Regions from separate parts of the Homo sapiens genome. Here all the other regions are linked to region 2. The links come from fine-mapping of genetic effects on plasma protein levels. A gene starts in region 2. Each other region holds a variant in brackets. All regions are shown on one strand. Distances are between the middles of the regions.

Region 1 (2,849 bases), 13 kb after region 2:
CTGACCCATAGTCAGTGCTCAGCAAATGGTAGCTGAGAAGAAATTTTAACCAAGACACCACCTGATGGCAGCATCCTTAATTGCAGACAAAATACTCAGGAATATTTGGAAGGAATGAGCTGGGTATAAAGATATTCCAAGCAGAAAGAAGAGAATGAGTAATGTTTTAGAGATAATAACCTGATGAATGGGTCCAGGGATGGGCCCAAGAGATTAGGAAAATCTGAAACTCATTCTTTGAGAGCCAACTAGCAAAGGGAAAATCTGAGGGTAACAACAACGCATCACAAATCAACCTGTTCTTGTTATCACTCCTTCCTGATAAGGTTGTACCAGGAGAAGGTGCGACATCACAGTGGGGAAATCCAGGACCTCCGAGGTAGCATGAACCAGCTCATTGCCAAGCTCCAGGAGATGGAAGCCATGTCCGATGAGGTGAGACGCTGGCCATTCTGCCCCAAACATCTAATTTCTCTTTGTTTGATGTCCTGTTTCCTATACCTCAAGTGTTCTTTCTTGGTTTTATCTCTCATTTTGAGGGAGCACATCCCCCAGTGACTTTCAGGAATACAGTGAAAGAAGTATATTTTTAGTGCTTGTATGTTTAAAAGCATCTTTTTCTATCCTTGTACTTGGTTGATAGTTTGGCTGGGTACAGAATTCTAAATATGAAATAGTTTCTCCTGAGAATGTTGAAGGAAGCCCACCACTCTATTATAGTTTATACTGTTGCTAATGAGAAGTCTAATGGCACTCTTATTATTGATCCTTTGAGTATGATCTATTTTTTATCCCTGGGAGCTTGTAGAAAAATCTTTTTGTCTCTAATGTTCCTCATATAACCTGGTTTGTGGTTTGCCGAGCTTATTAAATCTGTGGGTTGATATTTTTCAATAGTTTTGGGAAACTTTTACCTTTTATCTCTTAAAATATTTCTTCTTTCCATTATCTGTCTCCTTTCCTTGGATTCTAATTACACCTATGCTAGGCCTATGCTTTGAAAGCCTTTAGAGTGCTTTATGTGATTCCTACGCTATTACCTGGTTTGTTTTTTCATTCTTTTTCTGTTATGTGCTTATGTTTTGATATTTTCCTATTAACCTTTCTTCAGGTTTACTAATAATCTTGCATCATTCTGTCTCTCCAATTTATTATTAAATCCATGCATTTAGTTCTTTTTGTTTTTTTAATGGAGTCTCCCTCTGTCGCCCAGGCAGCTCACTGCAACCTCTGCCTCCTGGGTTCAAGTGCATCCTACACCTGAGTAGCTGGGATTGCAGGTGCACATTACCACGCTCAGCTAATTTTTATATTTTTAGTGGAGACAGGGTTTCACCATGTCGACTTGGCTGGTCTTGAACTCCTGACCTCAAGTGATCCACCTGCCTCAGCCTCCTAAAGTGCTAAGATTACAG[A/G]CGTGAGCCACTGCATCCAGCCTTAGTTCTTAATTTCAGATACTGCATTGTTTAGTTCTAGGATATACATTTGATTTTTTTCACAGACTTTAATTCTGTGGTGAAATTCCCCAACATTTCACCTATGTTGTCCATCTTTTCCTTTATTTTAATTAACACATTAGCAACAGTTATTTTAAAAATCCTTGTCTGCTAACTCCAATGTCTGGATCATCTGTGGCCTCCCTCTGTTTTCTGCTTTTTATCTTGGGTATCAATGATATGGTCTTGCCTCTTCAAGTCTAGTAACTTTTAGTGGTTTCTCAACATTGTATACAAAAGAACTGTAGCTGTTCCAAATAATTATAATTCCACTAGAGAAAGTTCCCCTTTTCTTTATAAGGAGGATGAAATAGACTGGTCACTTCTATCTAGACATGCACTAAGCTAGTTCAGACAGACCTGGATCACAATTTTAAAAAAATTTATCCAGAGGTTTTAAGCTTAACTCTTTAGACTCCTTCCCATGCAGCTTCAAAAATTTGACAACTGTCTTAGTGGCAGACTTACTGTATGTTTGAGGCCTCACAAGTCTCCAAATGTGTCTCTCACCCCTGCATGAACGCAAAAATCTCTGGGCCTGGTGGCAGCCTTCTCCGCCAGGAGCAAACTTGGATTCCTGGGTTCTAATTGTGCCCAGGATTGATTTAGTGCCCCCAGGTGAAGTGCAGCTGAAGCACAGTATTGACTCATCACCACCCCTTCTAGGGTAATGGATCTCAAAGTACGGCCCACGGCCCACGTGCCTGCATCATCAGTATCACCTGGGAAAATGTTAACAATTCGAATTAATAGGCCTCACTCAGACCTTCTGAATCAGAGGCTCTGAAGATGCAAACCAATCATCTGTGTTCCAGCAAGCCTTCCAGGTGGTTCTGACATATACCAGAGAGAATCACTGTTCTAAGGCCTTGATCTCTTGCTTGTTGTGTTTTGCGGTGCCCTCCCTCAAAGGGACTTCGTTTCCTAAGCACTGTGAAGATATGAAGTTTTATTCTGCTTTTCAGAAATGTTTGAAGTGGCCTATAGCCTCCTATAGTCTTGAAATTCAGTTAATACCTTGTGAAGAAAAGTGGCCATATTTGAGGCTCCTCAAGTCCCCAGTTTTGTTACTTTAGCTCTTTGTCACCATTAAGAACTTTGCTTCCTTCTCTTTCACCAGTAGCAGCAGCCCATTGTCTGGCCTAAGCCCAGATCCTTAGCCTATGCCTAGAATCGTCAAATACCCCCAGAGATTTAAAACAAACGGACAAAAAATGCCAGCACATCTCAGAATGGTTTTCTGCTCTGCAGAATTTTAGTTCATCTGGTCCTTGTTGCTTCCACAGATGTGCCTATGGGCTGGCCACCCTTTGGAATCCGTCAATCTGGAAACTCCTGGCCTTTGGGCCTAAG
Region 2 (2,849 bases):
TGGCAATGTCTGTCCCTCCCTGGGGCTAAGTTTCTTCATTGTGCCCTCCTTAGGGGATTGGGGCAAGACTTGGAAGGATCTAGCAGCACAGCCGTAAGACAGAGCCCTCGCACAAGTGGGACCCAGAGAGCGGATGGTTCTCTCACGCTGAGCTCAGAAGGGATATAACTTTAGAACACTCCTTGCATCACGGTGCTAGACAGACCTCTCCCAAGAACACACGTGCGTGCACACACCACATACGCAAACGTGTACACCCAGGGTGAACAGCCGTACCTGTGCACACACATCCAGGCAGCATCATGGGCTTGCACCCTCCCCGACACTTAAGTACACACGTGGGCACAGCTCTATGAAATTTCAAACTCATAAGTAGACACACACAGGTAAAAATAGCCCCTCAAACCGACCTATGCCCACATCACCAAAGCATGTGAGCAAGTCACATGTGCACACTTGCACACTGGCCACATGACGTACTCCCCCCTCACGCATTTATGTAATAAGCATTTGTTGAGCAGCGCCATGTGTCAGGCACTGTCTGGGTGCCAGGGACACAACTTCCAATTAAAATCTGGGTCCTCATGGGCCTTTTGAGTTCACAGCTACGCACACACACTTAGGATTGCACACGCATGTACAGGCTCACAGACACTCACTGGGTAACACACCGCTTACCGTAGCTCAATGCTGCCTTGTTGAGTCGGACCACGGTGCCTGGCGTGGAGGCACCGACCACGGGCAGCAGCAGTGCCAGCAGCAGGCCCAGCCTACTTGCCCAAGCCATGGCTGCCCTGGCCGCTGCCCACAGGATCTGTGGGCTGGGGTAGAAATGAGCATCAGGGAGCTCAGCCAAAACAGCCCACCCCTGAGCCACCCGAACCCCACTCCAGCCTGGAGGGAACAAGCCCTGACTGGTGATCCCAGCCCTGCCCCAGGCCCACAGACATCAGTTTTTGCATCTCTGCATTGGGAACCATCACCTTGCCTTGCTTGCTTCATCAGGAATCATGGGGGAGTCCCTTCTGGAAATGACCCGCAATGCCCAGAGAAGAAATGGTCTTGCCTAGGGCCACACAGTGGACTGGGACCAGGTGCAGGACCCAAGCCATGGCATAGAAGGATGGTGAGACTCCCAAACGGGGAGACTGAGGGTAGTTTCCTGTCCCAAGAAGATGCCCAGGACTGTATCACCTGATGCCGGAGTCCAGCCCCGTGTGACAGCCAGCTTGGTGTCCAGCTGTCCACCAAATTCAGCCAGGGGAGGACCCAGGGTGGCTCCTGTCCTCATCCCCTCCTGGCCAGGTGGTAAATGGCCTAAGAGTAGGCCTCTCACATGGCCCCCATCCTCTCCTGACTCAGTCTGGCCAAATAGGCAGATCTGTGTCTGACTCAGGGAGAGGGAGCCAGGCAGGAGTGAGGGACTGCGGCTCAGGTGGGTCTGCTGAGACCCAGGATGGCGGCACTTGCCCAGGTCCTACAGCAAGGCCAGGGGTGGAAGGACCCTTCTGCAGAGGGTGGCTGGAGGTAGCATCCCCACTGAACAGATAGAGAAGCCAAGCCTCCTTGGAAGTGGTGTACCAGCCCAGCCCCATGCCTACCTCAGGTGGTTCCTGAGACAGGTGAACTCTCAGCCCCAGGGTAGCCCTCCTCTGCCCGAGGCAGGCAGATGCAGAGGCTACTTTATAAGGCTCCCAATGTGCAGAGTCCACTGGGAAGGGACCCAGGGAGCGGCGAGTTTGCTTGTGGTTGCAAGTGTTTTCCCTGCAAACATGGCCTTTGCCAAAGTGTCTCATCCCACATGTGCGCTGGGGCTGCCACGTAGCCAGTAGCCAGGCCCAGCTCCCAACCACTACAAGCCCCTGGGGCTAGGCAGCTATGGCCTTAGTGAGGGCCAGGAGATCTCTGGAAGGAAAGCTGCTTCTAGGAGGGTATCTTATCATGCCCAGCCAAGGCCTGGGAGGATGGGGCCCATGAGGACCCCATCCCCCCTCCCATAGGCAAGGGGATGGCTGCAATGACCCCTCAAGCCTGGTACCTCCAAGCTCTCTCGGAAACATGACCCTTTTAGGAGGGGCAGAAGGCTACCTGAGCACCATCCTCAGTCATTGACTGAGCCCTGACCCTGTCACATATTCACACACTGAGTCCTGACCCCAGTTACTGAGCTCTGACCCTGATCACATGCTGAGCCCTGATCCCAGTCACAAACTGAGCCCTAACTCAGAAGGGAACAGAAGAGAAAGTGTGCGTGACCTGTCCCCACAGCTTAACATCCCAGCCTCTCTCCAAATGCACATTCCACTCACAATGGATTAGTCCACGGTCTCTTTCCACATTACAAACGTCAGCCTCCGCCTTGGCTGGATGGGACCCAAGGAACTGTGTGTGCGCATGAAGGAATTTGCATATGCACATGTGTGGATGAGGGTTGTGTTGATACATGCATGTGAGTGTGTGTGCATAGTCACATGTACGGGGAAAATGTGTGCTCTTATGTGTGAGTGTGGACATGAAATGGGCACGTTGGCATCTTGGTTTATGGTGTTGTGTGTCTATTCACACAATCCAACAGGACCACAGAGGTGGGGAGTTTTGTGTACATGTATGCATGTGTGGGCTTGGCCTACTGAGTGTTTGTGGGTCTGTGAGTGTGTGGTGTTAGGTGCATGTGTGTATGCAAGTGGACTGTTTCCTGGGATGGGGAGGTACATGTATATATGTTCTTGTGTGTGTGCATATATGTGTGCACAGCAGGCGATGGCCTTTCCATTTTTCTTCATTGGCACAGGATGACTTGGGGCCTTTCCCCAACTCCAGGGCACTCTTTGACTCCCACTGACCCCACA
Region 3 (2,500 bases), 270 kb after region 2:
TGCCGGAGGCCGTGGGCGGCGACATGCAGCAGCTGAACCAGCTGGGCGCGCAGGTGGGCCCGGCGGCGGGGCGTGGGGCGCGGGGCCCAGGTGATTCCAGGATCCGGGCCTGGGGTGGGGGGGACGTCCGGGGGTGCGCGGGAGTTGGGAGAGACTAGACAGAGCGGCGTCTTGTGGGCGTTTGGGGTGTGTGAGGTGGGTTCGGGGCGAGGCTAAGGTGAGCTGGGGTCTGAGGAGAGTGTGGGGAGCCAAGGGATCTCCGGAGGCCTAAGGGCCACCTGAGGGGTCCGAAAGGCTTTGTGGGGTCTCAGAGATGGGACTACGGGACCTCTGCGGGGTCCTGGGGCCGAGGAGAGCTTTTGGGGTCCTAGAAGAGGGACGGAGGGGAGTCTAGATGAGGCTGAAGGAGTTTGGGGAACTGAAGGAACAGACTAAGGGCGTGGGGAGTTTTGGGGAGCAGTGGGGTCCAAAGGGAGATAGATGTTTGGCAGGGAGGCCGAGGAAGCCTGAGGGGAGTGGGAGGGCCCGAGAATCTGAGGGGGCCCGGGGAAGCTTGGCCTGGGCTGCCGTCTTACATCTCAGTGTGACATGAGTGTCAGTAATAGCCAGGCCCCACTGGGGCTCTGTGGGCCTGAGGGGCTCGATCTGGGACAAGGCTGATGACACCTTCCACCTCCACCCAGTTAAGGAGAGTCACTGGGATTCACATGGAAAGAAACCTTATACACTGTGTACAGTGGGGGTCTTCATCCTCGATGGTAGGGGAGCTAGCAAAGCCTTTTTCTCCCCCTTCAGGCTGCAGGTGCCAACCAAGGCAGTCTTGGAGGCATCCTGCTTCTGTGCTGGTTGGGATGCCTTTTCATACCACCAAGGCTGCTGAAATAGGTGAGAATGACACTTCTCACCCCCACTGGGAAGATACATCTATTTCCCCCGCTAGGTTGTCACTTCCCAGGAGGTAGCGCCCCTCTTCTTTCATCTCCATACCCCCCACAACTTCCCACACAGTAGTGCTGCTTGCGAGATAAAAACCAAACTTAGAACTTGTAAC[G/A]ACAGGAAGGTTCTAAGCTTGAGCTATGCAATAGAAAAATTTGCAAGCCACATTTCTAACTTTGCATTTTGTAGTAGCCACATTTAAAAATTAAATAGAAATGGAAATTAATTTTTTTTTTTTGAGACGTAGTCTCATTCTGTCACCCAGGCTGGAGTGCAGTGGCGCGATCTCGGGTCACTGCAACCTCCGCCTCCCAGGTTCAACCAGTTCTCTGTCTCAGTCTCCCGAGTAACTGGGACTACAGGCACACGCCACCATGCCCAGCTAATTTTTGTATTTTTAGTAGAGATGGGGTTTGACCATGTTGGCCAGGCTGGTCTTGAACACCTGACCTCAGGTGATCTGCCCACCTCAGCCTCCCAGAGTGTTGGGATTACAGGCGTGAGCCACTGTGCCCAGCCCTGAGTTTATCTTATGCAAGCATCCTAGAGTTTATTTACACAAACCTACTGCACCCTAGGATATATGGTATAGCGCATTGCTCCTAGGCTACAAACCTATACAGCATGTGACTGTACTGAATACCATAGGCAACTGGACTATAATGGTAAATATTTGTGTGTTTAGACAAATCTAAATAGAAAAGGTACAGTACAAATACAGTATAAAAGATAAAAAATAGGCCGGGCACGGTGGCTCACACCTACCCTAGGACTTTGGGAGGCCAAGGTGGGCGGATCACAAGGTCAGGAGATCGAGACCATCCTGGCCAACATGATGAAACCCTGTCTCTACTAAAAATACAAAAATTAGCTGGGTGTAGTGGCGGGCACTTGTAGTCCCGGCTACTCTGGAGGCTAAGGCAGGAGAATCGCCTGAACCTGAGAGGTGGAGGTTGCAGTAAGCTGCGATTGCACCACTGCATTCCAGCCTGGGCAATAGAGTGAGACTTCATCTCAAAAAAAAAAAAACAACTTTCTAGTTGGGTACGGTGGCACAGCTACCACAGTAGTCCCAGCTACTTGGGAGGCTGAGACAGGAGGATCACTTGAGCCCAGGATTTCAAGGCTGTAGTGCATGGTGATTCCACCTGTGAATAGCCATTGCACTCCAGCCTGGGCAGCATAGTGAGACCCCCATCCCTAAAAAAAAATTTTTTTTTTTCTGTTTTTGATAAGTTGACCTTAGCCTACTGTCAGTTTTTTTTTGTTTGTTTGTTTGTTTTAGACGGAGTCTTCCTCTGTCACCCAGGCTGGAGTGCAGTGGCGTGATCTTGGCTCACTGCAAACTTCACCTCCTGGGCTCAAGTGATTCTTTTGCCTCAGGCTCCCAAGTAGCTGGGACTACAGGCGTGCACCACCATGCCTGGCTAATTTTTGTATTTTTAGTAGAGACAGCGTTTCACCATGTTGGCCAGGCTGGTCACGAACTCCTGACCTCAAGTGATCTGCCTGCCTCAACCTCCCAAAGTGCTGGGATTACAGGCGTAAGCCATGCACCCTGCCA

Alleles and levels. Positions count from the first base shown, and alleles are read on the strand shown. Strength reflects both the effect of a copy and how common the allele is.
For the plasma level of the protein whose gene starts at base 1,658 in region 2, allele G in region 1 goes with a higher level than allele A (strong association).
In carriers of allele A in region 3, the plasma level of the protein whose gene starts at base 1,658 in region 2 tends to be higher than with G alone (strong association).

What was found. PIP is the chance, under the fine-mapping model, that this variant and not a neighbour inherited with it causes the effect. Protein levels are from antibody-based Olink assays in UK Biobank. Linkage for the fine-mapping came from a reference panel and not from the study's own genotypes, which makes the PIPs less certain.
Region 1: its variant is fine-mapped to the plasma level of the BPIFB2 protein (UK Biobank, PIP above 0.99).
Region 3: its variant is fine-mapped to the plasma level of the BPIFB2 protein (UK Biobank, PIP above 0.99).

The regions. Positions count from the first base shown.
Region 1 is chr20:32,993,205-32,996,053 of GRCh38, reverse strand. SUN5 (Sad1 and UNC84 domain containing 5) reads left to right here. Exons shown (of 13, transcript NM_080675.4): 8 at 327-435. Among named protein-coding and RNA genes, the nearest start is that of SUN5, 9.8 kb to the left of the region's middle. The variant A/G (reference allele first, on the strand shown) is at 1,416.
Region 2 is chr20:33,006,513-33,009,361 of GRCh38, reverse strand. It overlaps BPIFB2 (BPI fold containing family B member 2), which reads right to left and starts at 1,658. Exons shown (of 16, transcript NM_025227.3): 1 at 1,602-1,658; 2 at 679-821. The coding sequence starts at 787. RefSeq lists enhancers at 283-1,277, 1,278-2,273.
Region 3 is chr20:32,740,861-32,743,360 of GRCh38, reverse strand. It overlaps COMMD7 (COMM domain containing 7), which reads left to right. Exons shown (of 9, transcript NM_053041.3): 1 at 1-53. Among named protein-coding and RNA genes, the nearest start is that of COMMD7, 1.4 kb to the left of the region's middle. RefSeq lists silencers at 49-118, 1,103-1,277 and enhancers at 231-1,058, 1,728-2,229. The variant G/A (reference allele first, on the strand shown) is at 1,052.